5 separate regions of the Homo sapiens genome follow, and regions 2, 3, 4 and 5 are each linked to region 1. The links come from fine-mapping of genetic effects on gene expression. A gene starts in region 1. Each other region holds a variant in brackets. All regions are shown on one strand. Distances are from middle to middle.

What was found.
Region 2: its variant is fine-mapped to the expression of RRBP1 in whole blood (TOPMed, PIP above 0.99).
Region 3: its variant is fine-mapped to the expression of RRBP1 in whole blood (TOPMed, PIP above 0.99).
Region 4: its variant is fine-mapped to the expression of RRBP1 in whole blood (TOPMed, PIP 0.98).
Region 5: its variant is fine-mapped to the expression of RRBP1 in whole blood (TOPMed, PIP above 0.99).

Annotation. Positions count from the first base shown.
Region 1 is chr20:17,678,736-17,684,985 of GRCh38, forward strand. RRBP1 (ribosome binding protein 1) reads right to left here and starts at 3,507. Exons shown (of 25, transcript NM_001365613.2): 1 at 3,293-3,507; 2 at 1,264-1,340. RefSeq lists enhancers at 801-2,000, 2,192-2,864, 4,118-4,177 and silencers at 2,438-2,747, 2,778-2,827, 2,858-3,187, 3,418-3,837.
Region 2 is chr20:17,853,211-17,859,460 of GRCh38, forward strand. No RefSeq gene overlaps it. Among named protein-coding and RNA genes, the nearest start is that of SNORD17, 110 kb to the right of the region's middle. RefSeq lists an enhancer at 6,031-6,250. The variant G/A (reference allele first, on the strand shown) is at 3,220.
Region 3 is chr20:17,614,325-17,620,574 of GRCh38, forward strand. RRBP1 (ribosome binding protein 1) reads right to left here. Exons shown (of 25, transcript NM_001365613.2): 18 at 5,975-6,046; 19 at 5,309-5,404; 20 at 4,272-4,355; 21 at 2,408-2,515; 22 at 1,602-1,685; 23 at 1,107-1,205; 24 at 413-556. Among named protein-coding and RNA genes, the nearest start is that of DSTN, 47 kb to the left of the region's middle. RefSeq lists enhancers at 1-313, 314-1,037. The variant A/G (reference allele first, on the strand shown) is at 3,674.
Region 4 is chr20:17,624,992-17,631,241 of GRCh38, forward strand. It overlaps RRBP1 (ribosome binding protein 1), which reads right to left. Exons shown (of 25, transcript NM_001365613.2): 9 at 4,832-4,970; 10 at 2,513-2,691; 11 at 2,357-2,391; 12 at 521-611. Among named protein-coding and RNA genes, the nearest start is that of RRBP1, 54 kb to the right of the region's middle. The variant CGAG/C (reference allele first, on the strand shown) is at 2,712.
Region 5 is chr20:17,644,788-17,651,037 of GRCh38, forward strand. All of the region lies in intron 3 of RRBP1 (ribosome binding protein 1), which reads right to left. Among named protein-coding and RNA genes, the nearest start is that of RRBP1, 34 kb to the right of the region's middle. RefSeq lists enhancers at 3,439-3,528, 3,593-4,296 and silencers at 3,709-3,798, 4,448-4,577. The variant G/A (reference allele first, on the strand shown) is at 3,730.

The sequences.
Region 1 (6,250 bases):
TTAATTTTACTTAATTTGAATTGTTTTAAACTTAAATTGCTACTTGTGGCTACTGTATTGGACAACACAGTTCTAGACAGTAGCTTTTTCAGGCAAGAACTAGGTCTCACTTGCGGTGTTTGAAGGCCCACCACACAGGAGACCCTCGGTGAAAAAAATGAAATGAAAAATACCTTCAGCACTGCCAGATTTTCAAAATGCCTCCCCACCTTCCTGCCACTGAAGCTCTTAATTTTGATCTTCACGTTCTGTGTCCTCCCTTGGGTAATTATTGCCCCAGGAAGGTGGAGGTATATAGCCAGGAGGGAACATTTGGAAGGCCGGGCCCACATCGCCTAGCAACTGGGCAACAGGAACTGGCCTGACAACCTTCTGACCAGCTGGACCTCCACATTCTCATCCACTGAATGGGTGACAACCATTCCCACCCCCTAGAACAGGGTTATTTTAAGGCCTAAATGTAAACCACAGTTGTGGAATCTGATTCTAAAAAGTGAACCTTAAAAACCAAGTTGGGCTAAGCTTCATTTATCCAATGAGACAGCTGGGAATAGTTTAACAGGTATGGGGGCGCTGTCCGCCTGGTATAACCAATATTTATGATGTTATAGGCCAGGCCTTAACCACTGCAGGCCCAGCATGCACAGACGGACAGCACAGTCCCTGCCTTCATCATTCTGACTTGACCATTATTTTTGTTTCTCCTGAAACAAGATTTTAGCAAAGAAAAACTTGCTGTCTCAACAGAACTGTTGATCCTCTATGTGTCATTCATCTATTAGTTAAAATTCCCAGGGCTAAAAAGACAAGAAGAGTCTGGGGTCCCGACACTTTTAAAAGGTGTCCCTGCTACATAATAAATCAATACTCCAATTCAATCACTGGCATTCAACCATTTAAACTGAGTTTGCTGCTATGTAATTATTGCAGCCTGTTGAGTTAGGGCTCATTTCATTAAAGAGCATAATTGCTCAAATGTGACTTGATTTAAGATTTATTTAAAACTCTTCCATCACCAAAAAATACTCATATACCATGAACCACTGTAACTTCTTAATCTCTCTGTAAATGTTCAGAGGCAGATTCCTAAGTATGAAAGGTGAGAGTTGTTATAGTGCCTAGAGCTCTAAACCCTCTCCTAAACCCCAAGATCCCTTTCTGGTTTCCCCTCCCCCAACCTTAGCCTCCTCCAGGCCTCCACTGGCCCAAGATCCCTGCAAGCCGGCTTTGCGGTGCTCCATGTAAAAGGAAAACTTCACCTACTAGGAGGTCTGCCCCGGCCTTTGCTTCAACAGAGAGGGAAATGGCACCTCCAGGACCTCAGAACCGGAAGCTTCTTTCTGGAAGGGAAAGAGGTTGGCATATGATAGTGGGAGTGACCTTTGGCAAGTTCGTAAACGAGTCAAGACATCACACAGTAAGTGACATGCTGCAGGGTCACAGATTTCTCTAGGTGTCGGATTAACAGGAAGTTAAATCAAACAAGGAGTGTGAGGAGGGAGGCGGGGCAGTGGGAGAATGCCCCCCAGCTGCACAGGGCGGGGTAACATTCGCAGTTGTTCTTCCTGGGAGTGCCAGACAGACGTCCTGGGTCTCTGGGGACACCCAGTTCTGAAGAGGTATCTAATGTGAGATATGAGGCCCTACCAGGCCCATTTCTCCAAATTCCTGAAAATGCCATCCAGATGGCCCCTACCCTGAAGGTTCCAGCACGCAGAGTGAATAGCTGAGCAGTGACGTGGGAGGCTCCTCAGGTCCCTCAGAGTTTCATTTCCTTGGTGCTTCCCAGTCTCTCCTAACCTCTGACCTCTCAGAGTAATTGCCAAATTGCCTTCTGTTTGTACAAGGTCCCAGCACTTCCCGGCGTGGTTCCCGACCCTGTGAGTGGGTGGTGCTGTCTTCAGGCCACAGATAAGAAACTAGGATTCAGAGGGGCTATGGGACCTGCGAGTAGGCGGCCAGTACGTGGTCCGGGGTGTAGAACCCCGGCTGTGCAACTTCTGCAGCCCCGCGCCCGCCGCAGTGCCGGAGCCAGGCCCCACCTTCCTCCCGTGTCCAGCACCCCCCAACAAAAGCATCCCAACTGAACAGCCAACACTTGTGGCTCCTTCCTACAAGTGCTGGGTCTCCACAGCTTTCCTCGCAAATCGAAGCTAACAGGAGCCCCGATTTGCAGACCAGGAAATGGAGACCCCGAACGAAACAACTTGGTCGGGGTCACCCTCGCCAGCCGGGGCACTCTAGAGCTAAAACTCGCGACTTATCATTCGGAGAGGGGTCCCTGAAGCACTGCGGGCGCCCCACTGGAAGCGCAGACCCCGGCCTGCCTCCCCTAATCAGGGCGCAGCGGGAGAGCCGGCCGGGCCGGGGCGGGCACCAGGCCGGGTGCCAGCGCGCTTGGCCGGCCCGGAGGTGTCCGCTTCCGCCCGGGGCTGGCACCGCCGGCCCATTCATCGTGGCCGCGGGCGGGGCGGGCCGGGCCCCGGGCGCCCTCGTCCCCCCGCCGGGAGCCCTCGAGCCAGGCTCCGCGCAGCCCAGCCGGGGAAACGGTGGCCCCGGCCCCGCCGCCAGGGGGAGCAGGGAGCCGCCTCCCGCACTCCGGGAAGTTGCCACCGCGGCCGCCCGGCGTCCGTGCCATGGACAGACCCGGTCCCTGCGCCGCGAGCCCTGCGGCCCCGGCCCGCCCCGTCGGGGGCCGTCCCAGCCCCGCGAAGCGCCAGCGGGCCGCGGCCCGGGACCGGCGCGCTCGGCCCGTGGGCCCCCATTCAATCCCGCCCTCCTCCCCTCGGCCGGCCTCCGCCGCCTTCCGCCCGCACCCCACCCCTCCGGCCCGGACTCCAGCCCGGCAACGTCATCCGGCGGCTTCCCGAAACTTAACCCCTTCCTCCGCCAGCTGTGCGCCGCCCCGCCCCGCCCCGCCGCCAACTTTCTTCGCCCAACTTCGGAGCGCGCTGGCCGGCCCGACGGCCCTGCCGGGAGGGAGGGAGGCAGGGAGCGGTCGCCACGTCGCGCCCGTCTGCCGCCGCAGCTCCCCGGACGGCGAGGGCCGCGGGGTCCACACCACGGGGCGCGCCCTGCCTACGCCCCGGTACGGCGCTTGCCCGGCACCCCCGCCCCGAGTCCGACCCCGACCCCGATGGTGCACGGCCGCGGCGGCAGGCGGCGGGCGGCGGGCGGGCCGGGGGAGGGGCCGCCGAGGAGACGTGTCACTCGCGGCGCAGCGCGGCCGGCCCCGGCCCCCCGACGGCCCGGCCCGCGCGCGGCCGCTGCAGGGCCCGGCCAAGTTTCTTACCTGCAGCCAGAGACGCGAGAGGGAAAGCGAGAGGGCAGGAGCCGCCGCCTTCGCAGCCGCCGCGGAGCCGGGAGAGAGGAGCCGGCCAAGCCTCCGCCAAGAAACCGCCCCCGAGCAGCTGTAGACGCTGCGACCCTGACGCCGCCCGCCCCGTCTGCCGTCCGCTCCGGCCGCTCGCTGGCTGCGTGCGCGCGTGTGGAGTCGTGGCACTTTCTGCCTCAGAGCTGGCGAACGGCCCCCTCCGCCGGGATCGCCGCCTCCTGCCTTCCCCACCCGGGCCAGCCATTCATCGAGCCGCCTCTTCCCATTGGTCCGCACCCCGCCACTCTGCCGGTCGCTGGCCAGTCAGGACGCGGGTGGCCGAGCCGCGGCGGCGGCCATTGGGCAGAGAGGAGGGTCTCCACCTCGGCCAATGGGAGAGGGGAGGAGCTGCGGGGAGGTGAAGGGGGCAGGGCTGGGGAGAGGCGGGGCCGAGCGGCGCGGCGCTCGGCCGTGCGCGGGGCGGGGCGGAGCAGGAACGCCCCGCCCACCGAGGGGGGGGTCTCCGGCCAGCTCCGCCCACTCTGGGCCCGCGGCGCTCCCAGCAGTCTCTGACTAGGATCCGGCTCTGCCTAGGCGGGAAGCAGAAGGTTCGGGTCCCGGCGACCCCGGGCCTGCGCCTCTGGATACCGCTGGGCTGACATGGCGGTGGCTGAACAGGGTTGCGCAACCGCGAACAGCCAAGGAAGCTGCTTTATTTAAACCCAACTAACTTCCCCCGAAGCAGCGCCCCCTCGGGCCGCCGGGTATGAGGACAAGCTCTGCTGGGGGTCAGCCCAGGGAGAGCAAGTTCTTATCATCAAAGAGATTGCAATCAGCACCAGAAGGAATTTCCTTCAGTAAATGGAGGAATTGGGGTGGAAGAGCCAGAAGGTGCACGAGGAATTGAAGCGGATGTCATCGCCCTCGTTGTTAGGGAGGGTACAACTGAGGCACGGTCTATTTAAGATACTCAACCAAATCACAGCCGGCAGAGCAATAATTACAATCCACTCTGTGGCGTTTTATTCCATGCGTTGGGGAAGGTGAGAGGTTCTAACCTAAGAAAACTCATCCGTGTCCCACAAAACGGAGCAACTGGTACTTCCTCATTCCCTGACTTTCTCCCCAATATCAGCCAACACTCAGTCTTCATAATTAGTCAAGTCTTTAAATTAAAATAATTTTAGGCTTGATTTTTAACCATTATGTCAGCGTCTCTTAAAGCCAACCCTTTGAACTTGAGCCAAAGCCAGCTTCTTTGGAATTTTGGATTCTGAGCGACCAAAGGCTGCCTAGACTGCCCCCCATCACTTCCCTAGCTCCTGTTGCTGCAGAATCCCGTGCCTAACATCTATTTCTTGGACAATTTTCAATCTTCCCTGTCCCCATTTGTCACTAGTACTGTACTAGCTGTTGTTAGAAAGATGTGAAAAATACAAGCCTTCATGGGGAATAAAGAGCGATTGGGTTGAAATTAAACTGTTCATTCCTATTTTTAATCTTGGCGGTTCCTTAGCCCATTAATGATTAATCAGCAGGAATTAACCTGGATTAACTCTGGAACACTCAGTCATTTTCCAGCAGTGAGACCCGGCTTCAAATGAAAGTCAAGAATCCCAGCTTCTGGCTGGCAATTGCTACCAATGAGTCCTACTTGACCAGGGCTGGGCCATCTAACCTTTCTGAACATGGGTATACTCCTTTAGGACAATCACTCCTTCCTCTGGGTTTCAGGGAGGAAATTCATTCGTTCATTCATTCATTCATTCATTCACCGGTGTTTGTGGAGTGCCCGGTATACAGTGCTAAGCTGGGCAAGCAGCCTAGAATGACACATAGGTCCAGTGAAGACCCAGCTGCCCTCAAGGGCCTGTCCAGGGACAGGGACCTCCTTTATCCTGTTCACTGTTTATCTTTTTCCGGAAGCAGATCCTGGCAGTAGGGTTTGTTCAATCATTCATTTGGGGGATAATCATAAGAAACATTGGTGGAGAAGTGGGATGAGCAGGAGCCAATAAGGGGACCAACATCAAGCCTGTGACTGGTGTGGGCACACAGGGCTCGGCGTCTCTGGGGATGCTGTGAAACTGTAGAACACACCCCAGAGACGTCCCAGCTGAGGGGTGAGGACCTGGTTATTTATCCAGCCACTCCCAGTCCTCATTGGTTAACAGCTTCTTCTGGGGGGACTTTAACCCCCGCCCCCATCAAGCTGGAGAAAGCCTTGCAGCAAGAAGCCCTTGGCAGAATGGTGAGTGCCTGGAGGCATGTCGGGGGCCACAGCAGTGTCTCCCACACTGTGAACCATAGTCCGACACAGCACCTGCACAGAATAGAGGCTTGTGAATATACGTGTTCTGTAAATATTGTCCCATGAGCGATAACATTACAAAGTCCTTAGGAGTGAGGAGTGTTTACAGAAAAGGGGCTCCCTGTTTGTTCCCTTACATAACTTAACATTTGATTTGGCCTCAACACAACATTTGTTTCGGGATGGAAGAGCAGCCCTGTCTGAGCCTTTGCATTTCCTCTGTCCTTGCCCCTCATCTGCCAACAGCCAGCCCCAATGTGCTGTGAAGACTTCCAGCCTCATCATCCTCATGCCCTTTGGGCAAAGAAATCAGTCCCGCTGCACCAGGCTCTGTCAGGGCAGATCTGCACACCCTCAGGGTGGCCCGACTTTGACAGCCACTGCTGTGCCTGTGGACACCCATCTTTAACCCCCTGCAGCCTCGTCAGCTCTCCCAAGGCGTATCTGGGAAAAACCAGATCCATCCCTAGGACTAGATGGACAAGGGTTGCCTGTGGTGGGAGTGAGAGGCATCCCCCCAGGCTCAAGTCTTCTGCTAAATCATGCAGCCCTCCAGCAGCACGAGAAAGCCCATCCCACAGTCCAGCCTCCAGGCTGGGGCTCTCAGATGGGAACAGGTCATTTCA
Region 2 (6,250 bases), 170 kb after region 1:
CTATCATTAAATGCTCCAGCTTTAGATCCTCCAACACCCTTTTGCTTTAAGTTGTCATAAAACGACTTTGCTTTTTCGTGAATCATATTAGAGTCTCTAGGTATGCAATCCTGCACCCACATGAAAGCTGCATTTTCAATATGAAAGGAATTTTGCAAAAAAAGTGCAAAGTTTTTGTGCCTGCTGGCCCAGAAATGGCTTCACGAATTTCCTTTTGTTTTTTGCAATGGTTGTTAGGCTGGTTCATTTGTTTTTGAAATAGCCGGCAACCTCAGCTGCAGACATCAATCTATGGTAAACATCAAGCAATTCAACTTTCTTGTAATGTCATGGCTTTCCTCTGCTTCTTGGGAGCACCCCCAGCACCACTAGTGGCACTTCATGTGGGTCTCATGGTGCTATTCAGGGTTTATGGTATGCACTGCACACAAAGAAAAATACACGAGAACCAGAAGAGATCACTTTTCACTGCAATATGCAGTGTATCATTAGAGACAAACTGCTCACAGGGAGATGATCAGCATCATATGGTGTTTAAGTGGATACTTGCAACAGGAGCTTGCCACAATAGCAACAAGAGGTGGCTATGAAATTATGACAGTAGTATGGTATCAGTACAGTGAATTCGATGCAGTTATGATTTAATACTGTATCTTCGTTTGTTTCCATTTATCTTGATTGAAAGGCACCATGTATGGTCTGTGTCCGTATGTGTAAGTTTTGATAAATTTTAACTTTTTAGAATAGATTTGTGTATATTTTATGGTAGTAAATGATAAAATAGACTCCTATCTACATATATTTTATGCATTCATGACATACCTAACTTTTCCTGAATTTTCTTGATATTTCTAGACCATGCTGCAAGCTTTTTTAAATTATCACAAATCTCCAAAAAATGTTTATTGAAAAAAATCCATGTAGAAGAGGACCTGTGCAGTTCAAACCCATGTTGTTCAAGGGTCACCTGTAGTTGCAAAGGTGATGGAAGAGCTGAAAACCTAAACGGGAGGGTAGAGCAACCCAGAAAGTAGAAACTGCTACTTCCCCAGGGCTAGAGGAACAAGGGAAGAGAGGGTATTATTAGGAGCCGAAGTTATGGAGGAGACTTGGCCACTGCTGGAGGCATCACCTGAAACAGAAAGGGCTGGAGAGAGAATATTCCTGGCTTCTCTCTTCTACCAAGCTCAATCTCCTGCCACTGCTTCCCATTGACTGAACTTGTCAGGAAGCCAGGGTGCAGGGGAGCCTGGGAAATGTAGTCCACAGAGGTCAGGGCCGTGCAACACAGCACAGCAGAGAAGGATGAGGGATGGATCTGAGGACAAACAGGAAAGTGACAGTCTCCACCGCCTGAGCTGTGTGATGGGGATGAGAAGGGCCCTGTGCCTACCTGAAGGCAGAAGATTGTCTCAGCTGACAGCTTTGCGTCTTTTCTGATTCCTACAGAAATGGAGAGCATGAGCAGCAAGGGAGAAGTCTTTGTCACCCTATCCCCAACAGGAGGGGACTGTGGGAGAATGATCTTAGGTGGGGAGATGACCTGTGGTCTGGGGAACCAGGATGGCTGGGTTCTTGAGAGGCCCTGCCAGCCAGAGCTGGAGATCAATCCCCGCATTAGCAAGAGCAAACATCCAGCACTGTGGGGAAGTCACTATAGTAGCTGCCATAGATGAAGCATCCACTGGTCCAGGAACTAACCTTCATGCTTTAGGTGGATTATTTCATGTAATCCTTTTTTATTTTATTTATTTATTTATTTATTTGAGATGGAGTCTCGCTGTTTCTCCCAGGCTGGAGTGCAGTGGCGCCATCTTGGCTCACTGCAAGCTCCTCCTCCCACGTTCACACCATTCTCCTGCCTCAGCCTGGCAAGTAGCTGGGACTACAGGCGCCCGCCACCATGCCCGGCTAATTTTTTGTATTTTTAGTAGAGACGGGGTTTCACCATGTTAGCCAGGATGGTCTCGATCTCCTGACCTCGTGATCCACCTGCCTTGGCCTCCCAAAGTGCTGGGATTACAGGTGTGAGCCACCATGCCTGGCCTCATGTAATCCTTTTGATAACCCTTTGAGATAAGCACCAAGGGTGTTCCATAAAACCTAAAAAAAATTATAGCCAAAAAAAAAAGATTGTTCCAGTACACATATAACTGAACAAAAAAGTCCTGAAACTGAAAAATGAAAAATCCCAGAAGGTCTGAGTGTAGTGTGGCTGCTTGAGGCCAAATTAGACCTTCTGGTCAACATGATTTCCTGTAAGTGAATAGATAAAAATAAGCTTCTGTATATGTTCTATGTATTGAATCATACAGTATCACTATATATGTTTTTTCATTCAATATTTCTTACAATCCAGCATTGTAAAAGTTTCACATGACATGACACTTTAGAGGAAGAAATGGAAAATCAGGCTGGATGTGGTGCCTCACACTTGTAATCCCAGCAATTTGGGAGGCCAAGGCCAGAGGATCTGTTGAGCCCAGGAGTTCAAGACCAGCCTGGGCAACATGGTGAAACCCCATTTCTACAAATAATAAAAAAAAATTATCCAAGCATGGTGGTGCATGCCTGTAGTCCCAACTACTCCAGAGGCTGAGGTGGGAGGGTCACTTGAGCCCAGGAAGTTGAGGATGTAATGAGCCGAGATCATGCCACTGCACTCCAGCCTGGGTGACAGAGTGAGACCCTGTTGAAAGAAAGAGAGAAAGAGAGAAAAGAAAGAAAGAAAAGAAAAAGAGAGAAAGAAAGAAAGAAAGAGAGAGAGAGGGAGACAGAGAGGGAGGGAGGGAGGGAGGGAGGGAGGGAGGGAGGGAGGGAGGGAGGGACAGAAAGAAATGGAAGATCAGAGAAGTGGAATAACCTCCTAGGATCACACAGCTTGTGAATGAGAGGCACTGAGTTGCTCAGTGATGGAGTGTCTAATGTTGGGTGTGTATGTACTGACTGTGTCCCAAGGCCAATTATAACTTGGGGAAGGCACCACTACCTCCCTGTCATACAATGGGTACATTGTCTGTCAATGGCACGTGGTTGTACACACCTCCAGGGGTAAACAATCAAAAGTCAGGAGCCTCTCCAGCTCTCCCTCATAAAAATACTGTATCCTCTAGGGAGTGGGGTTCTCTAGTCCAGCCCCATGTGATATGCAGTCCCAGTGGGGCCGGGAGATTTGCCCAAGGTCACACAGCTGGTTAGAGGGGAACCACACACCACCAC[G/A]TCCTGCAGCTGCAAATCTGTTTCATGGCCTGCTTCCTCTCTTCTTCCCTAGAATGCCTTTTTTTTCTACCACAGAGTTTCTACAGTTCAAACCTGGAGGGCAGGTTGGGTTTTGTTTTGTTTTTCACACACTCCTTCACAGATTACAGGAGAGATTTTACTCTTGAACTGAAAGTAGAAAATTATTGTTAGCTTTAACACACAGCTCTTTCTCTCTTCCCCAACCCAGATACATTAGGATCCTCTTGTCCTATCAAAAAAAAAATAGTAATAATAATAATAATAATAATAATAATAATTCTATGGGGCAGAAAAGAGAAGAATTTGTGAGTTTCCCATTCCTGGCTGGACATTTCCCACAAATGGCAGTTAAGTCTTCATTGACTAATAGGAAAAGAGCAGCTCCAGCCGCATGACTTCACGGCACAGGCAAAGTCAAAGGCAAGGAGAGCTCACCTTAACTCTGGTGTATAGACACAGACTCCATGCCTCTTGTCCAACTCTTCCATCAGGGAGCCAGAACGTCCACATCTTCCAGGTTCCTGTAGGCTGTGTTTAGGGAGAGATGTAAGACTCTACTGGAACTTACGTGCTGGGAGGGCCAATGGTGCTGACACTTGGTCTTCTTGCTCTTGGCTGATGGATAGCAGGGAATATGAAGCTATCTATATCTCACTCAGATAGAGATGGACATTCCAGTCAAAAGCTAAGCTACTTCTGAATGCAAAGATGGTGTATCAGCTTTTGCTGCATAACAAACCACTCCAAAATGTAGTGGTTAAAATAACTATTGTTTATTTAGCTCATGAGTCCTCATATTAGCCATTTGGGTTGTGCTTAGCTGGGCTCATTCCTATGTCTTTGGTCAGCTGCTGGGTTTGCTGGGCCTGTCTGATCTGGGATGGCTCAGCTGAGACAGTATGCCTCTGCTCCACGTGGTCTCTCATCCTCAGCAGCATAGCCTGAGCTTTATGCACAGTAGCCTGGGCTTTATCCATGGTAACCAACAGGCTCCCAAGACAAGAGCAGCAGTACTCAGGGCCTCTTGAGGCCCAGGCTTGGAACTGTCATAAGGTGACTCCCAACATATTCCAATGGCTAAGTCAAGTCAAAAGGCCATCCCTGATTCAAGGACTGGAAATCAGCCCCAGAAGCTACAAAGTCACATTGGAAAGGGGCATAGATTTAGGGAGGGGGAAGGATTGTCACCATGTTTGCAAATGATCTTCCCCTATATCCATTTAAAATTCTTCTAGGAACAAAGTAGGGGTTTCAGGAAAAAAAAAAGTGTTGAATCAAATAATACACCCAAGTAAGAGTTTGTGGCACCAGCCTGTTGCACGCCTACTAAATGCAAGCCTTAAGCCTCTGCAGTGGGTAGACCCTAAGCAGTAGCAAGCTGGAGCCTGCTAGCACTGACTCATGAAAGCCAACTGTTAAATGCTCAGGAATTTTTTGAGCCAGTTGTTAAACCATCATAGCTTGAAACTGACCATGGTGGGAGCGTTTACACCATGGGAATTGGCTAGCACTACAAATCAGGGTGCTTTTTCTCCTGGAGAGCTGGTTTACCCACACACCATCCCCGTTAAGCTGAAGGAAATACTGTCTCTTCCAACTTGAGGAGTAAGACAGATACACAATGGAAGATTATCACATGCCAATCAGGCATGATGACTTCAATACAAGAAATAAACTGAGAGACTGGAGACAGCAGGGAAAGGAACTCATCATTTCTGATGTGTAGAAATTACATAAGGCATCATGGAGGAGGTGGTCTTTTCAGCTGGGCCTTGAAGGAAATACAGAGATAGCCACAGCCAGAGGGAAGGCTGCAGCCTGTGGAACAGCCAGGCACAGAAAGAGGTGCCTTTAGAGAGCAGGCAGCCAGCCTAGTGGAAGGGGCTTAGACTACAGGTGTTTTATTTAGTACCATTTTTGCTTCAAGTGACAGAAAATCCCAAACAACAATGACTTAAGCAAGTTGGTTTAATTCTCTCCCTGTAAGCGATTTTGGGAAATGATTGTGAATGATCAGTGCTCTGCAGGCACAGCGGCTCTGCCTCCGACCAGCCCTCACATCTCCTCTTGTCCCAGACTCTCCCAGAACAGGTGCATGGTCTTCTTGTCCTTCTCTCTCCTTCTTGGGTGCTGCAGGCCATCCGGCAGCCTGGGATCTGACATCCAGCTTCCCCACTCGCAGCTGTGTGAGCTCAGAAAGGTTGCCTAACATTTCTGAATCCTGGTTTCCAACTTGGTAAAATGGAGCAACGTAACTCACAGAGGGTTACAACAATGTGGGGTATAGTGTCTGTGCAGAACTTAGCATGGTGACCGACCCAGGGTGGGCACTCAGGGGAAGTAGGGTGTGTGTGTGTGCGTGCGTGCGTGCATGTGCGTGTGCGTGTGCGTGTGTGTGTGTGTGTGTGTGTGTGATGAAAGAGAGAGAGAGAGAGCCTCTCCAGGCCCTGGCCAGAGACCCCTTGGCCTCCTCCTGCCTGCTTGGAGAGGCAAGGTCTCTCTTTTTCCCAGGGTCGGGTGATGGAGCTGTTGGGGAGGGAGCCCTGGCAGCCTGGTCCTTGTGGAGTTTGGTTCTGCGTGGGCAGCTGTGTGAACCTTGACCGCTTCAGACCAGCTTCACTGGGGTAGCCACTTCAAAGGGCCCATGAGGATGCCTGCCCCAGTCCCCAGCCCATCCACCCTCACCCACAGCCCATGCCCCATGAGAGGGGACTGTGCCTGGAAAGGGCCTCTCTGGGAAATGATGTCTACCCCTCCAGGATCAAGGGGTAGGGCAGTCGGGTTGCAGCTGGGGAGGAGATGAAGGCAGGAAGTATGCTAGGTCAGTGACCCAGGCAAATATTTGGCAGATCAATGCTCAAGGTTGACCTCAAGTGTTTACCACTGGGTCACCAGGAAGTGGCTTCTTGCCACTTTCACCCACGCCTCCCCTCATGGCAGCCTTCAGGGATGAGGGCTTTTCTGGCTGTGGTCAGGGGCTCACCTGTCCACCTAGCCCCCTGGCCTAGAG
Region 3 (6,250 bases), 64 kb before region 1:
CAAGCCACTCCAGTCCCTCAGAGAACAGGAGCCACAGACCCCTGGGGCTGGGGGACAGGGAGGACTTGGTGGGAGCTGAGGGGAAACCATCATCCTGCAGGGCAGGGGCTGGAGCACTGGCTAAGGGGCCCACACAGGTGCAAAGTGAGGACCTGGGCCAGCAGGGGGATCAGACACTCGCTTCCCAGCAAGGGAACCCCAGAAGGGTGGGTGGTGGGCCGGGTGGGCTGAAGCCCTCGTTAGGAAGTCTCTGTCCCCACTACCTCCGCCCAGCTCTGCCTCCCCTGGGGCTCCCAGCCCAGCGCTCCCAGCAGCTTGACGACTCCGCCCAGCTCTGCCTCTCCCGGTCCTGCCTCCCCGGGGCTCCCGGCAGCTCGACTCCTCCCGCCCTGCTTTGGCGCCAGGCACGCACTGCCTTTTCCAGCTGTTCCTGCAGCTTCTTCACCGTGTCCTTCTCCCTTGCCAGCTGCTCCTGGGTCGTCTTCAGAAGCTCCTGCAGTCTCGTGGCGGCGCGCCCCAGGTCACTTGTTAACTTCTTCTCTTTTTCTAGTCTCTCCTGATGGTCAGAAGGTTGACGGGCATCAGCCCTTGCACCGGCAGGAGGGCCACCCCAGCTATGCCCACAGGACCCTGACGCCAGGGGCTGGAGCCCTCTGGGGACACAAGGAAGGCAACTCCTGGTCACCCGGAGATAGGTGGTGACGACAGGGAGGAAACCGCCCATGCTGACCGTGAGGGCTGGGTCCTGTGCTCTCAGCACCACCAGAACTTCCTGGGGCAGGAGCAGTTTACTCCGCACTGTCCAAGGCAGCACAGGAGACACACCTGACTACTGAGCGCTGGACGTGTGGCTGAGGAACGCACTTCACGTTCTACATGCTTCACATTTCGACAGCCACCAGGACTAATGGCTGCCATGTGACCATGTGACACTGCAGGGCTAGGAGTCCCCACCCCAGCCCCGGGTAGTGACAAGGGGAACCAGTGCCAAGGGCAGGTCCCGGTGGGGTCGGCTCTCCCCTTCCTGGCCCCTTTCCGAGGCCAAGAGTGGCGCCAGCCCCAGAGCAGACCCTCCAGGTGTGACCCCCGCCCCAGCCCCTGCCTGCCTTCAGCTGTGAGGCCTCCTCTGTTTCTGAAGACTCTAGGGGGCCGGCTGTGCGGAGCTTCTCCAATTCTTCTTGTAACCGACATGCCGAGGTCTGAGCCTTGCCGGAGAGGGAAGTGAGGTCTGGGTGAGACGTCTTATAAACGGCTGTGCTGTCAAGACCCTACCGAGCACGCCTGGGGACCAGGGGGCCCCCCCAGCCTGATGGAGCAACAGCTCCATCCTGTAGCTGGAATGAGTGGGCCAGACCCACAAGTTCTGACCCAGCCCCAGGCCCTCAAGGCTCCTCAGGGATGCAGACCACCCACAGGGCTCCCAAGGTGCCTCCAGCCTGTGCTCCACCTGCCCGGGCCCCACCCACTGCTGCCCAGAAGGCCCAGGCCCAGCCCAGGTGCTGCTGGGCACAGCCGAGCGGGGCAGGGCTGACCCACTCATTCCCTGGAGACTCAGGGCCCAGGGGCTGATGGGGGCTGAGAGCCACCAGGCAGGGCCTGACCTCCTCAAACTCGGCCGTGAGCTTCTGCCGCTGTGTCTGCTCATCCTCCAGGATGGCTTCTGTCCACTCCAGCTGCGTCTTCAGCTGTGCAAACACCGCAAACATAACCCGGCAGCCCGGTGAGGAACCCTCCAGGGGCCCAGGGATCCAGCACAGGCACCGCTCTCTAGCTGCTTCTAGCTTCCCCTTTCCCTGCCCCAACGCTCCCCTCGTTGGGGAGAGGGCACCTCAGCCCCTGGTACAGACTTCGGTGTGGCTCAGGAGCAGCTGATGGGGCCTCTGCAACCTCAGGGGCCTTTAACGAGACTCACAGGACAAGAACGATGCCTCCGAGCCCTGGCCCCATGACAACCCCCTTAACAGCCACACCATGGCCACCCCAGGGACAGGCCCTGCCTCTTGGTGAGGACTCTTGGTGGCTATTGCCGGGCTCAAAACTCTGGAGAGCGAATATCCTGCTAGCGATGTCCCAGCCGGGGTTGCAGTGGGAGACAGTCCCCTTCGATGGCTGCAGACCCTGCCCAGAGCTGCTCCTGAGCCCTGTAGGTGCAGACCCCAAATCACGGACTCCCTCTTCGAGTCCCACCTCCCCCCAACTCCTCCAGCCTCTCCACCTGGCCACCTTTCTGTTCCATGCTCTGTGGCTTTCTCCGAACCTGGATGATCCAAATGGGGCAAAGCAGGGTGGGGTGGGGAAGCAGCGGAGGCTGGAGCAGCCAGTGCGGGGTTTAGTCCGAACGGAGGCAGCAGGGCCTGCACTCTTCTGGGATTAGTGATGTGTCTGGGGACCAGCTCACCGCCCTAACCTGAACGGGGTCCTGCTCGGCTGGGGGCGCCTCTGGGGAGGAAGCTGGGGCCCCAGCTATGTCACCATCCTCTACGTGGCTCTTCATTTCACTCAACTGCTGCCTGACCTGGAACAGGAAGGGGTGTGTTTGCAAATGCACAGCCAGTCGCACACCCACCATGCTCACTCCTGCAGGGACCCCCTCGGAGGACCGTAGCTGCTCTCAACAGCCAAAGTCCCTTCAGGGGACCTGGCTTGGTAACTGTGACCTATGTCTGGCCACCCCCGCCGCCAACCTGAGCCAAACCAAGGCCACCAAGCCTCTGGGCTAATGAGACCCAATGTGCTCTGCTCCAAGCCCAACCGGAGGGGAGCCCTCCCTGGGAGTGAGGTGACCCCTGATGGGCATGGCCCACAGAGCAAAGGAATCCGAATGGAACCGGGGGGTGGCCGCCACACTGTCTACACCCCCCGTTTCTCCTTCAAGGATGCAGTCCACTGCTCAGAGCCCTTTCCGGGGTCTAGAAAAGATTATGAGATAACATTCTTGCCTAACAAGGTCCCCCACCCCTACGCTCCATCACTGGGGTTAGGTGGCATATCTGGCTGCACCCAAACCACTGGGCCTGCAATTTGAAGGGCAGGTGTCACTCGAGAGGCTCAGGTAGAGGTTCCAATTGGAGACCCAGGTGGGGCCCTTGGCATAAGCTCCCCAGGGAACATGGGCGGTCTCTGACCCTGCGCTGAGGGGCCACCCCAGGTACGTGGGAACCCCAGACATTCTTCCCTCCCTCTGAACAGCCCCTCCCAATGCAAATAACGAACTGCACAGCTGGAAGACAACAGAAACTCCAGGGGGTTTTCTCTGCACATCCCCGGCCTGGGCCATGCCCCCGGGGCCTGTCACCCAGACTTCGCTCAGCCAAGGCTTCAGTGAGTGGCCCCTAGACACAGGAGGAGACCTGGCCTAGGCAGCACTGCCCTCTGGTGTTCTGGTCCGGGTAAGACCTGAATGACCAAGGGGGACCGAGGGTGTTGGGAGCGTGTGCCGGACTCACTGGCTGCTGCAGGGGGAATGCCAGCCCATTTTTATTTAAAATTTCCCAATTTCTCCCTGTTGACAACTAATTCAAGATTTAAAAAAACACCGCAGATCAAACAGAACATGTCTGCGGCCTCACAGGGTGCTGCTCACAACACCAGCCTTGGGGCGGTACCAGATCCGGTGAGGCTGGGTGGAGCCTGCCAAGGAGCTGGGACTTGGCATCAGACACCTGAGCTGAAC[A/G]CCAGGAGGGACTCAAGAGGCCACCTGCACAGGCAGAGCTCCAGTGGTCTGCCAAGGGGGCTGCTCTCTGCACCCGGCAGCTGGTATGGGGCCGGGCGTGGAGCAGGTCTTCCCTGCATGCCTGTGGCTTTGACTGAATTGATCTGAGCTGTCACTGAGGTGAGAAAACCCACAGAAGGCACGGGACTTGCTGAGAGCCCCAGGGCGATGGGTGGCCAGGCCAGGAGGAACCCCCAGGCTTCCTGGTCTTGTGATGCCAGGGACTGCAATATCCCTGACGCCCCCAGGTGACTACAATGGGCTCACAGGGAATGCAGACGCCCAGAGCTCTCACTACCTTGAACAGGGGACCAGGTAGCCAGGGGACGGGAGATGGAGTGGGAGCACCCTGGTCCCAACAGCCACAGGCCCAGCTCAGAGTTCTGGGCAAATGTGCAGGAAGGCCCCCAGAAGCCGGCCCCATGCTGCTCAACGGGTGACACTGTCCCTTCCCTAGGCTTTATCTTTGAGTGGACACAAACGCATGACTGGCAAATGCATCTCACACACGCAACGCCCCAGGTCACACTCCTGGCATGGGGACATGGAGGCCACCTACCAGGGCAAGCTCATCGCTCTGTTTCTGGGCTTCGCTCTTGGCGGCATCGAGCTGAGATTGAGATTCTAGGAGAAGTTGCCTCAGCTTGGGGAGAAAACAGAGGCGGGTGATGGGAAAAAAGGAGAGAAAAGGAGAAAACCAGTCCCCGTGAGTTAGCGCCGAAACATAAAACCTAACACATCCACTTAACCAAAACCCTGAGGAGGGTCACAGCATCGGGCCGGCACAGGGCTCGCCAGGCTTCCTACAGCTACGATTTCTTTTTTGAGGACTTAGGAAGAATGGTGTTCACTGCGTACCTCTTTCAGGCCTTCACAAATGTTTACTGATTATCTCTGGCAAAAAAGGGCCAAAAGTTGGAGATGATTTTTTTTTTCAGAGATGGTCTCAATCTGTCATCCACGCTGGTCTTGAACTCTTGGGCTCAGGCAATCCTCCTGCATCAGCCTCCTAAGCAGCTGGGAACGGAGGTGCCCACCAGTGTGCCTGGCTTTTTTTTTTTTTTTTGGTAGAGATGCGGTCTTGCTATGTTGCCCAGGCCGGTCTCAAATTTCTGGCCTCGAGCAATCCACCTCAGCCTTTCAAAGTGCTGGGATTACAGGCATGAGCCGCTGTGCCTGGCCCAAAAGTTTGAGATTAAACCAGAATTGGGATACTGGGCTTGTGCTTCTGCTTCTGAAGAGCAGAAAAAGTGTCAGATCTAAATCCACTCCCCACCAGATATGACATCAGCAAGCCAGGCAGAGAATCCCCTTGCGGAGGGATAACCTAGAACGTCAAACGCCTCCCTCGGGGCAGGGCTGCCTGGCTCTGCCCCTGTCCTGGCTGGGAGGCTGCCTTTTTGAAACCTGCCCTGAGAGACACCTCAGGCCTGACAGCCCAACGAGGGGCCTGTGAGGCTTCGGGCAAACGCCTGAGGACTCGGACTTCAAGGCTTATGTCACCGAGAGCTGCTCCCACAGGGCTGAGGAGAAGCAGCTCAGGGAGGACCGCAGATCTGCTGGGCAGGGGCTGCACTCCTTGGGGGGCAGACTCACCCCTGCCACCTCCTTGGCGTAGTTCTGGCACTCGGCGCTGGCGGCCGCCATGTGCTTTTCCAGCTCTGCCTCCAAATGCGACGTGTGCTCCCTCACCTGGACAGATGCACAGACACGCACACGCATGCGCCAGCAGCCTCTGCTCAAAGGGCACTCACCTCAGGGAGCAGGCTGGCCCTGGGATAGGTGAGGCCTCTCGGGAGATCCCTGAGGCCCACCAGCTACCAAGCAAACGAGAAACTAGTCCGCGGCAAGAGAACCCCTTACGGAAAGTGGCAGGCTGCACCCGGGCACTCCTGGGGACTGACATGCTCTTAGATTTACTTGCAAAAGCAGGTACCAAGGGTACCTTCTCCAGGGCTCCCTGTGGCGTCTGAAGGGGGCAGTGGGGCCACCTTGACTGTGAAGGCCGTGGCAGAAGCCCTGTTCACCAGGGCTGGGCAGGTCTGCACAGGGCCCGTGGCTGGGTCTCAGGGTCCTCTGAGGTAGTCAATGTCTCTCATTAAGGAAAAACAGGATGGACAAGATCCCTTGGCTTGAGAGAGAATGCCTCTCTTAAGGCACACGGTCCATGAGGAAGAAATCAGTGAAGTGTCCTCTGCATTAACGTCACTTTCAAAGAGGCTCCCGGGACAAGAGAAAGAGTTCTCTGAGCAGAGCACATACCTGGTCCGAACTTTCAAGTTCTCCTTTTAGCTTCTCTACAATCTCTTCGAGATGCTTCACTGTGACCCGGGACTACAAAGCAAGGGGAAGGCTCCGTCAGACACGAGCACCTGGGGGTGTCTCCTTCCGAGGCCATGCTAGGACCCGAGCGGGACTGACCCAACTTAGGAAGCCCCGGGGGTGCCCACTCCGCCCAGCTGGGACGGTCACCCTGGCGCCATCTGGCAGTGTCTTCCTAGGCGGGGGCCTCCTGGAGGACGGACTGAGCTGTCATCC
Region 4 (6,250 bases), 54 kb before region 1:
GCTGATCCCTTGGGCCAGCTCTGGCAGAGCCTGGCACAGGGAGGCCAAGGCCAGGGCCTGCCTTGGGAAGCTGCAGCCTCTGCAGGGAGCAACAGGGCCAGCCAGCAAGCCCGGCTCTGTGAGAAGGGGGCAGGAGGGTGTGGCCGAGGCCACACCAGGACAGCAGGCATGCCACCTGCCGAGCTTCTACATCCCCTTCTCCTGGGACCAGGATCCCCACTTAGGGCAACCACGTGACTCAGGCCAGGCCAACAGCACACTGTCCCCACCCCAGGGATGACTCCACGCTTGAGCGAGTGGCGCAGGCTGATCCACAGGCAGTCAGCCCTGGGTCTTTGGCGGAACTCAGGGGTGAGTAGAAGCACCCCCCACACCCTGGACCCCCACAGCACAATGGGGTGTAGAAACACAAGCTCAGCCCTCCCCCGAGTCCAGGGCGGGTGCCACATAGCAGAACCTTTCCCGGCCCCACCTGTGCTTCCCTGGCCCGTCCGTCCCCGCCTGTGCCTGCCGCACTCACATTGTTCTTCACTTTCTGCTGCTCGACGGCCTCCCTGAGCTCGATGGCCTCCTTCTCCAGACCCGACACCTGGGACTCCAGCTCCTTGAGGCTGAAGGGACACAACGAGGTCACCGCCTAGGCTCCAAGGGGCTACAGCCCCTACAGATCCCACCTGAGGCCCCATCCAGGGAGGAGTACCTTCGAGGCTGAACCATCTGGCCAGGGACGGTCCCTTCTGGCTGCCCCCACCTCACCCAGCGTGAGCTCCCAGGGAAGCCTGAGCAGCCCCCAACACCCTCCCCTCCCCCCGCCATCCAGAGCACTGACCCCAGAGCTGTCACCAGAGTCCCAGTTGGTGACACCGGAGAGCTGGGTTTCCAGGAGAGGTGGAATCGTGACCCTGCCCTCAGAGCTCTCCTGGGGCCCTCACAGCTTTTCCCTGCATCATGTGACAGCCTCCGCCGGCAAATCACCCCAAGAGCGTCCCCAAAAGAATGAGACTCCGAGGAAGAGGTGTCAGCAGGCCAGTGGCAAGGACACACTGACAATCACACCCTTGGCAGCCACTGCCCGAATTCTAGAATATCTGGGGCTGAATCGCTCCTCTCTACTCCAGAGCAGGATGGCCCAGCCTACACATAACTTTCAGATCAACTGTTTGAGAAGGAAATAAAAGCACCAATTTCTGCCAGACACATCTACATGATGCAAGAAAATTCAGATTAATCCTAACTACAACATGAGTTCATTATCCTAGTAATATGCTGTGTGGCCCAAGAATCTGATCTTAAAACACAAGAGCAAAACAACAACCTCTCTACCCCAACAAACACCACCAGGAGAAACAAAGTTTGCCCATGCTTTTTGGGAAAGGAAGGTGGACAAGGTTTGGTTGTGGGTCATTCTGGGCCCTCAGGGCAGCTGGCTTCCTTTCCCAGTCCCCAAGCCGCAGAGCCCAAATGCCAGGGAACATGGGCTGTGGCCTGGGGAGCTGCCTCTGCTGAGAGGCACACAGGGAGGTGCTTCTTTGGTGACGAGGGTCAGGACAAGGGAACTTTGTGAACTGATGGCCTAGGACACATCTGACCGTGTGCGAGGGAATGCAGGACACCCTCCATGCCTCCCCCACCTACTGCTGCATGGACCCCTAGCCACGGCGGCCAGGACCTGCCTCCCCAGACTGTGGGCATGTGCTACAGGAGGCGAGCCCCAGAAGTGATGGTCACAAGGACTCCGGCCCCTGACTCGAGCCACCCCACCCAGGTGTTGGCCGGCCTTAGCAACAGCAAATAAACACTCCCCGAACATGGCCTGGCGCTGGTGCTGCTGACACGGAGGGAAAACAAGGTCTGGCCAGCAGTGAAGTCACCTCACAGATGGAGGAAAACAACGCTGAGACGCTGCCAGCTCTGCCCCGACGCCTCAAACCTGTGCTCCAGCAGCAAGCCTGGGTTCGCCATTCTGGGTTGTGCAACCATTTTTCCTGTTAGAGTTCCTGACCTCAGCCCCTAAAATCCCTTGCTTGTACACACAGAACCTCTGACCAGTCAGTCCCTTCCCACAGAGAGATGGACAGGTGGATGGACGGACGGCAGGTGGCAGGGGGTGCTCCCACCCTGGCTGAGGCCACTCTGGAACGATGTGATCACGAAGCTCTCTGCAAGGCCGCCTTCTTTCCCGCCCAGGCCTGTCCCGTCCTCTAAATCACCGGAGGATGGGGGAGGGAAGGGAGCCTCTGAAAGGGGCTCTTCTGCAGAGGACCTGAGCACCCTCCTGAAAACCCTGGCCCCCCAAGGGTCTTTGGTCCCCCGGGCTGAGGCTCAAGTGAGCAGGCAGGCTGCTTCCCCAGCTTACCGAGTCTGCTGCTGGTCAGCCTCCGCCTGGCTGGCCTGGAATGAGAGACAAAAGCTCCTTGGTCTCCAGGAGACTCATCTCACGCAGCGGGGCTAGTCCACCCACCTGCTAGATGGAGTTCCCTTTCCTCCCCGTGGCCCCAGGCAGAAGGCTGACCTGGACGTCCTGGGCATCCCGCGCCTGGCCCGCCTCCAGCAGGGCCTCAATGGAACGGATTCTCTCTGTGAGCTGGGAGTTCTCCGCCCTGGCCTCCTGGAGCTGCCCGTGGAGGCCACTCAGCTCCTCGCATTTGCTGCGCACCTCCGCCTCGGAGGACTGTAACTTGCTGTGCAGCTCTGGTGCAGAGGAAGGGAAA[CGAG/C]AAGTTAAGAGACTGCAAACCCCAGGGGGTGTGGAGGATGCCCTCACTGCTGCCCTCTTAGCACATGTGGGGCACCGAGGGCTTCCTCCTGCCTCCTCTGTGTGTCTGGGGCTCTTAAGACATACTACTGACCACTGGGGCCTCTTGTTAGCGGTTGAAGAAAGTGCCACTCTGGCATCACTTCTGAGAACCGTCAGGGTAGAATGCAATGCTCTCAGGACACTCATGAGAAAATGATAGAGAGTGGAAACGGACTCCAGCTGAGGCTTTTAAAGATTCATCTTCTAGAAGACTCTTTTTCTTACTGAGACCAGAAGTTCCTTAGAAAGTGGCTAGGTGGACCCCACTGCCACACCTCCCCCACCTCCCTGGCTGGGTCCCCCTCAACCCCCAAGACCTCTTCACAGTCGAGAAAGGCCAGGGGGTGACTCTTCTGCCCTGGGCCCCTTTCTCCCCTTGAGGTGTCCTCCTCCTCAGGTCACCTCAGACAGTCCCATGGGTCTAAGTGTCATCTTCGTGCCTCTGAGGCTGCACTCTCCCCAACCCCAGGCTCTGCCATCTGCCTCTTCTAAATGAAGCTCTAGTTAGACAACGCAAACCCAACATCCCGACCTCCCAGGACTCCTCATCTTCCTCCCTCGCCCACTGCCGAAGCCTACGAGCCCACACCCGCCATCTGTCAAGTTGCCCTCTTCACTAGCACCTCTGCGGCCACCTGGGCCCTGCCCTGTTGCCTTGGGCCTCAGCAACTGCAAGGCCTCATCCCTGGTCTCCATGGGCCACTCGTGCCCCTCTGGTCTGCTCTCCACCTGGTGTCAGTGTCCAGAAGCGCACATGAGACGACTTCATCTCCTGCCCCAAGCACTTCTGTCACACCTTCCACGGTGCCCAAGCTCCTCAGAGGGAGGGTGACCTGGCCCTGCCCCGCCACCAGCCTTCTCCTTCCAGCCACACTTGTTAGCCCATTTCTCACATAGGCCAAGTCAGTTCATTCCCACCTCCGGGCCCTGTGCTGGCCTCTGCCATGCATCCCCTCCTGCCTCAGAGAGTCTCCAGGACCACGCAATCTAAAGCCATGCCCAGCCCTCTGGAGCAGGGGCCGGGAAGCTGGGGCCGTGCCTCCCAACCTCCATTTTTCCAAGTGATATCAATGAAGCTTTCTTTGAACACAGCCAGGCCCCTCTGTTCACTCGGTGTTAATGGGCACTTTTGCCCACTGTGGCAGAGCTGAACAGTTGTGACAGAGACTGGCCAGAAGCATTCACCATCCATCCCCGACAGAAACAGTTCACCCGGTGTTAACGGGCACTTTTGCCCACTGTGGCAGAGCTGAGCAGTTGTGACAGAGACTGGCCAGAAGCATTCACCATCCATCCCTCACAGAAACAGTTGCCAACCCTGCCCTGAACACAGTCCCTGTGTAGAGGGCCCTGCTGTGCAATCCTGTCCTTGCAGGTGACTCTGTCGTGTAACCCCCAGTCCAGCCCAGCCCGGCACCCACGGCAGTGCTTGGCCTGGGGAGGGGCTCGGGAAGCGCCAGTGAGCCAAGGGCCACGGGCCTCTCACTGGCACCTTCAGCTCCCTTTCTCCAGGGGCTCTCGGCCCTCCATCCCTGTCACCCTTTCCATGATCGACTGCAGCAAGGGAACCACAGGCTTGTAAATCCTGCCTGGCCTTCTGGGCTGACTGAGCTGGGAGAGTAGAAAGGCCCAGAACACACATTTAGCTGAGACGCCTCAGGATCTCCCTGGTTCATCCACAGCCACTGCGGACCCAGGCTTGGGAGGGAAGCAGTGCCTTCCACCCCCATATGCCCTGCTCCCATGCACCAGGCCCTCACAGGCCTTGCCCCCCACTTCTAGCCCCTGTAGGTCCCATCCTCACAGCTCCATCCCCCCACCTCTGGACTGCGCCTATAGGCTGACTGCGCCCCCCGCCAGCCCCTGACTGGGCATAATCCCCTGCTCTTTGACTTTCTGAGGGGCAGTCAAGGGATCCGTGCTGCCCTCACCCAACAGGCCTAACCCACTGAGTTCTGGCACTGGCAGTGGGGCTGGGCCGGCATGCAGACCCAGCACCCTGCACTGAACCCCCGGCCCCACTGCCGCCGCCCTTACCGGCCATCTGCTGCTGTTGCTCCTGGGCCTTCTCGGCATCCGCCCGGAGGCTGGCGTGGCTGCTCTGCGTGTGGCACAGCTCCCGGCTGACCTCGTCCAGGCGCTTCTGCAGGGCCTCCTCACTCTCCCTGTGGGACGCCTGGGGACGGGCAGGGGAGTGGGGCAGTGAAGACGTGGAAGGACCAGGCCCTCAGCGGCTCTGCGGTGGAGGCGGACAGAGCTCTTTACCCCACCAAAGCCCCGTGCAGTCTCTGGTCCATGTGGGAAGGAAATGCATCCCTCGAGGCTCTAGAACCCGCACAGGCTTCACTTCGGCCAGAACCCTTTCATGGGGAGAAGGCAGCTGCCAGGGACCCACACTCACTTCCCAGTTCTTTTCTGAGTCCCTATTTTTACATTCTCAAGTGATTCATGAAGACATGGTTACTGCAAGAGTCCAAAGATACTGATTCAGAGTAAACTAGCGACATTTCCCAATCCAGTCCTCGATTCCTCTCCCAGGGGCGGACAGCTTGGTGGGTCTCCCACCTGCAGCTCCACATGTTACACACACACACGCACGGTGCACCACTGCGATCACGCTATAGGGCAGTGCTCTTAGTTCTTAATATTAGGTTGAACCACGTGAAATTGTCAGTGTTTGACCATTTTTACCTACAAAAATGGCAATTTCACATGCTTCAAAAGTATCTCAGAGACATTTCCTCACTCAGGACAGACAGGCCCACCACACCCTTGTTTAGGAGCCACACAGAGCTTCAGTGTTTGCCCAGTTCCCGGCTCAGTGTCAGGCAGGCTCTGGCAGTCCCAGTCGGTGCTCCACAGGACACCCTCATCCACCTGTAAAGGATTCCCACACACTGGGGCAGAAGTGCTGGCCAAGGCCTCCATTTAACCAGCCCTTTGGAGAACTCAGTTCTCCAAAAAGCCCGACCACTGATTATTCATTAACAAGCTTGTCTGGGGGCAGAACCAGGTAAGAGGGGCATCAACAGATGACTGCTGTTTGAATAAGAGGCTGTGAGTTATCCCTCGTCAATGCCTTTACCAAGCTGATCCCATCCACATCCATTTTCATTTTCTTTTAGGGCAATGGCTGCACAACCTGGAGCTGGGGTAACTGCTCAGATGAGCACCATCCGGGCAGAGGCGTGGCTGGAGCCAGTGAAGCCATCACCAAGGAGGTGGCCACTAGGCCGTGGTTCACGTGTACTGTGCAGTGAAAACTGGGGGCAGCTTTAGGATGGGCAGTGCTTTCTGCATTAGAACGTAGCAGGGGATTACTCAGTTCCAACTCCTAGGGAGGAAATGAAAGAAAGGAGTGACTGCAAGCTGCTCCCAGAAAGCACACCTGCTTCTCCTCTGCCAGGTGTCCCGGGCAGGAGCCTGCCTTGCACCCACCGGCTCCAACACCCTCAC
Region 5 (6,250 bases), 34 kb before region 1:
GGTATGAAAAAAAAAGAATGTGAAGTATCTGTAATAATTTTATATATGGATTGTATGTTGAAATAACATTTTGGATAAACTGGGTCAAACAAAATGTATCGTTAACATTCAGTCCATTTGTTTCTTGCTGGCCTTTTTAAATGTGGCTGAGGACATTTACATCACATCCATGGCTCACACGTGTGTGGCTCACATTCTGTTTCTCCTGGACTGGCTGGCCTATTCCTTTCCAGAACCAGGGACCCCCAAAGTGCCCCCTGCTGAATTCCTGGCAGCCCCTGGTCCTACAGAGGTTCCAGAGTGACCCAAGAGCTCTGGCCTCTCTTGAACTCTCTCCTTAAAGACCACCCTTCCAGGCCCCACGGCCCCTACTGCACTGCTGGGTGGGGAAACATCTGGATAAGGCAGCTGGAGGGCACGCGCTCTAGGACGCCGCTTCCTGCACAGGGGCAGCATGGCCACATGCTCACCCGCCGCAGGCTCAGTCCACAGAGTGCTCCCGAGAGTGTTCTCGGAGCGGCATTCTCATAAATCTTTATTAAAACTTTCTAACGTAATTCCATTCTATTAGATATTTTAACAGAAAAATAAAAACTTGCAACACGCGAAACAAACGCAAAGCTGCGTACAGCAAAATGTTAACGCTCTCCTCTGCCACCTCTCATGGCCCCCCAGAAACTTCCACAGCCTTTGCCACACTCATACAAACACTACCTTTTATACTGTTTTTAGAGAGCTATAACTTTACAAATCATTTTTCATTAAATCTTTTAGGTAAAAACTCTGCTGTCTCAATTGTCCCCAAATCAAGGGCAGCACAACTGAAAGAAAAAAGGAAAGCCCTCAGAAGCAGAGGCAGGATTTCTGGGCCTCCAGATGAGTTGCATTTAAATAACGTACTAACGGGAGCCTAAGGCGTGCCCAGCACATCACTTAGGGCTCCAGCAAATACTCGAAGATACCAGTAATCTTCCGAATTGTGAAATCTTAACGCACTAAACTAAGTCTCTCAGACTCAACACCTAGTCTGTGAAATCACAGACTTCAAAAGGCCCAGGGTGCAGTGAATGCTGGAAAAGCTCAGCTCCCTGAGGGCTTGCTCCTGCGGCTAACGCTTTGCCCATCTTGGTGGGTATGAAATACCAGGAAGGGACAGGCCAGGAGGCCTGGGGAGTGACCAGGGAGCAGGAGACCCAAGAGTAGAGACGCAGGCCAGTGTCTCACTTTGATGGATAATCCAGACCTCTGTCTGGCAGGGGACACAGCAACACCCCAGGGGCCAGGCCCTGCAGGAATGGGACAGGTACTGTGACAAATAACCACACAGGCCTGGGCTCAGGGGGGTGGCCTCTCCTGAGCTGGGTGGTCCTGGGCACGGCACTTCACCTCCAGGTGATAGCTGCAATGGGGGAATCTGAGCCAGAACCCTCAAAGCCACAGGCCTGCCCAAGAGCCTGGAAACGAGATTTTTAAGTGCTATCTTCTCATCTTTACTGCTGACAGCTAACTCAATAAAAAACAAATAAATGAATGAAACCACTGTACAGATGAACAAACACATCCGTGGGCCACGTCCAGTCTGCAGGTCACCTCTGTCCTTGGGCAGTGGGGCACCAAGGTCAGAGCAAGGCCTCTGGGACCAGGTGGCCTGGAGTCGAATCCCAGCTCAGCTCCTTCCCACCTTTGTCCTTGGACAAGTGGCTTAACCTTCCTTTGCTTCTGTTTCCTTGCCTACAAAACGGGGATGATCATTGTTCCCCTCACAGCGTGGCTGAAAAGAGTAAGTTGCAACGTGCTTGGAACCATGCCTGGCGCAGGGTAACGCACAGCAAAATAAATCAGCATGGCCGGCCTTCAAGCAGCTCACAGCAGCTCAGATAACGCACCTCACACCCCAAATTTCAAAATGACTCTCCCTTCTGCGACCACACTGGGAGGCTCAGGCACCTAAAATTAAACTCATCTGGCAAAGAGGCACTTAGTGTTCTCTCTCACTGTCAACTGTGGCGTCCTTGGATGAGGCTTTTCTCTCTGTATAATTTCCAGGATCCCCCATGGCCAGGGCTCAGGCATAGAAGGAGGATCTCAGCCCTAAGTGGCCTCATGAGACTCAGCGGCCAGCCCCCCACATCAGCTGCTGGAGCACCCCTGCACTGTGCACACCTGGCTCTCTCAGTCCACGGGGAGGGTATCAGAACCACTCCAGGAACTGCCGCCTGAGCCCTGGCAGCAGCTGGTGGTTAATAGGAGGGGATTATCGCCTTGGCCCTGGGATGGGCCCCACAAAAGGCTCCGGCTCAGCTCCAGCTGCTGCTACAGGTGCCCAGCAGCCCTGATCAGGGCAGGCAGGGCCAGGTGGTCTCTAGACACAAAGTATGTACCACCTGCATACCCAGCAGTTCGTAAATTGCTGGGCCTGGAAAGTTAAGTTATAGGTTGGGCTGTGGCCAACAGAGGCAGAGGACACAGGGCCATAAGGCAGAAGAGTGACACAAGGGGGACCTGGAGAACAATTGTGGCAGCAATGCCGAGAAAGGCTTTAAGGCATTGGGCCAAGCATAGCTGGGTAAGGACACGGTGAGGGGCTTTGGGCCCTAGCGTGTCAGACTTGCACCCGAGGTTGGACTAGGTCCAAGTCTTCATAGGCCCTGGGAATCTGGATTTTATTCTGTAGGCAACAAGCGATGCCTAGGAAGGAGCGTTTGAATTTGAGAAAAAGATTTCAGGATGCCCAGGGGGATGCGGCTGGAAGCAGGCAGACCAGCTGGCCTGGACCCTGGTCCTAAGAGCCTATCCCCGCTGGGTCCTAAGAGCCCAGGACCAGGATCTGGGCCCGAGTATTCAGGAAGCTGAGCTGGTGGGAGAGAGGCCCAGGTGTCAACCCAGGGACTCTGGCAATGGAACCTGAAACAGCATGGACTTGAGGGCTTGGGGAAGAACTCCAGTGGCAAAAACTCTCATTTCCTAAGAGATTGTCCAGATCAGTTCTGAGGGTGCCTCCCTCAGACACACACATGTAGTCTGAATAGCTGCTGCCTCCGGGCCTGCACGGGGTGACTCCAGACAGTGCAGACCAAGGCACCCAGCATGGCTGCCCAAGCCAGATCGCAATCTTGGCGTGCCTTCCACGCCCTGTAGTCCCCAGTCACCCGACCCAAACTCAGGTCTGCTGTAAGAAGGTGAAGACCCTGGGGCCCCAGGAAAGGGCTCCCACATGCCTCCTGGAAGCCCAGCACCACGCAAGCAGTCATCAGCCTCTGCAGACCAAGATTCAGAGGCTGAGGACAAGCTCCCCATTCCTGCTGACCCAAAGCCAAGGGCATCTCTGTCTCTCTCAACCTGAGGAGCCGGCTCCCTTCAGGGTCCCACCCCGAGGTGGGACGCAAGACGCTCTCTAGGGAGGAGCTCCGGCCAACATCACTGCTGGCCTCTAACTGCTCGTTCTTGGACTGTGGCCGTGAAGGCTCCTCCTGAGCCTGTGGGGGAAGTGAGCTTTATGAGACCCTGGAGGAAATGAAGATCTACCAAATGCTCCTGGAGGCAAACTGCGACTCCTGCTCTCACTCATTGCTCATCTGCCCACAGCTGAGGCAGGCCCTGGGCAGTGCACAAACAGTGGACTCCAGGCCCAGCTCAGGCCACAGAGCCCGGCCTTGCCCAAGCGCTGCTCAGCGCTCCTGACAGGAAGCAGGCCAAGGAGGCGCAGCTGCACTTGACCCCAAATGCCAC[G/A]AACGGTCACATCCGCAGCTTTAAGGGCAATGGAGCTCAGTACAAATAATGTCAAGAACAACCCAATTCAGGGCCTTTCAATCAGTCCTTTTCCTTTAGTTGGAGAAAAACGTAATCGGCTACAAACTTGGGGACTGGTATATTTAATGGTATCTAATGGAATTTAAAATATCCTATAGATTGAAGAACTGTTTTCCTCTTTAAAGTTTTGTTTTTTCCTCCAAATTTCAACAAAACCAATTTTATACCTGGAGTTAAAAAAAACCCACATCACAATATTTTTAAAAGAACGACAATTCCTGGAGGACCTCTGGGCAAGGCCCTTCCCAAGGCACACAGGCTGGCCCAAGGAGAATACAGTTTAAACAGCAATTAGGACTCTACCTAATGCCTGCAGAAAACGGCAGGGGATTTTTAATCCCAGGCTGTCTGACCACAGCCGTCTGGGGGCAGTGACCGGAGTCCCAGCCTCAACACGTTTTCAAGTGGCTGAAAAGAGATTTCTGGAAGAGTGTCATCTAGCAGCTTCTCACACTGATACTTGGCTCGCTTCCCTAGGGGATGTTTTTGTTCTTCTTTAAAAAAAGAAGAAGAAAAGAAAAAGTTGGGTTTGAAGAACTTCCACAGAAAGTGAATAAAGGGTCATAAGCCCCAGAGAGTTTTCTTCAGAGCTTCAGACCCTGAGAAACTGAGTTAGGTTCAAAAGAAAAAGTATCTGACTTGATCTCCGTGTACACCTCTCTGTGCAACTGCCGGCGAGAAGGGCACAGGGGCACCTGCCGGGCAGGGCGGGGGCCTCGGGAGGGGCTGCCCACACCGGCCGCTCTGCCATCTGCTGGTCATGTGCATGACTTCTGGGAAGTCTGAGCTTTGCTTTCTGCTTCTGTCAAACAGGTAAAAATTCAAATCCACCTTAGAGAATTGCACGAGGGATAAAGGCATGGAAACCAGCCTCCTAAACTGCACATCTGAACAAACACCTGGCTGGGGAGAGCAGTGGCGTCAGACCTGCTGTGCTAAGCAGCGCTGGGTTTGGAGCAAAGCAGGCTACACATGGGGAGGACAGGCGTGGGTGGGTGGGTGGGTGAGGAGCTGGGAGCAAGGGGTGTTCCCATCACGAAGTCAAATTGTTTAAGGGCCCTGCTACCCTAGACACCTTGAATACCGTTTCCTGGGGGCTTGACAACTCTTCCCCATACCCCCTGACCTGTGACCCCAGCCCCATTAGATTGCAGAACACGACTTGGGATTTTAGGTTACATTTCCTATTGTAGGGGTAGAATGGGGGCTCAGCGAGACTGCACACGACACAGAGCTCACAGGCCCCCTCCCACCACGGCACTGCCAGGCTCCAGAATGTGGGAACTGCCTTTAACTTCCCACCTTACCTCAGTTCATGAATGCCTCCCAGATGCCTGTGTGCTAGGGCTGGGACACGCACTGGCCTCCTTCTGGAGGCCTCAGAAGAGCTGGCACTACCTTTCCTCATTCCAGACCCCAAAAGGAGCAACGTGTTCCTTGCTGCTCCTCAGAGGACACAGGGCTGCCTCAAAACACCCAGAAGGATGAGAGTTCCATCAGCTTTGGTATAATGAGGGCCTGTTTATTTGACTTAGAGACACATAATGGAGTTGTTTCTTCTCCATAAAAAAAAAAAAGTTATAGAAAAACTGGAAAATGCAGAAGGGTGAAAGGAAGATACTAACATTTACCCATAATCCTACCTCCCAAAGGTGGCCTCTTTTTCCCACATGGACTTATCTGACAACGTGGCAAGAATGGGCCTCTGAAATGCCTGTTTCTGAGTGTTTGCCACCTCATGGAGGTTGGGTGGGTTCTCCTGGGCCATGACACAATGGTCTCTCTGGCCACAGAGTAAAACTGGCTTGCATCAGCAGGCTGGGGAAAGAGGGCCCCGCAGAAAGCAGGCCCACAGCCAAGACAGAAGTGCCATGTCCCCAGGGTTACCCACCCCCGTCCATTAGGCAGAAAGGTCACAGGTCCTTGGGTGAGCTCCAGACTCCCCAAGAGTGCAACAAGTACCCTGCATCCCCGCATCCCCTGAGTGACGTGCTAGCAGAGGTAATGAGGAAACACCTGTTTCCAACCAGCAGCAACAATGAGTGAAGCAAGCTCCAGTTAAAAGTACACTGTTCTGGAGCTCATGCTAACTGTGGGGTCTTCAGAATGTACATATGTACTTCCTCAGTCTACGCCCACACTGTAGGATCCAGACTTGATTCCAGGTGCTGGGTGGGACAGCTCTCCTGCCAGTGTAACACCCAGATGGTGATTAGTACAAGATCAGGGCAGCCCAGGTGGGAGGCAAACCAGCATAATCCTGCAAACAAAGACTCAATCTGAGGATAAAAATAGATTTTTTTAAAAACCAACACCACTGCATACACACACGTCTTGTGTTAGAAACTTGACTTTCCTAATAGACACTGTGCATAGGTGCTCAGTTAACTATCGGAGAACAAACCAGCTAAAGCCTGGACACGTGCGTCAGCTGACAGTA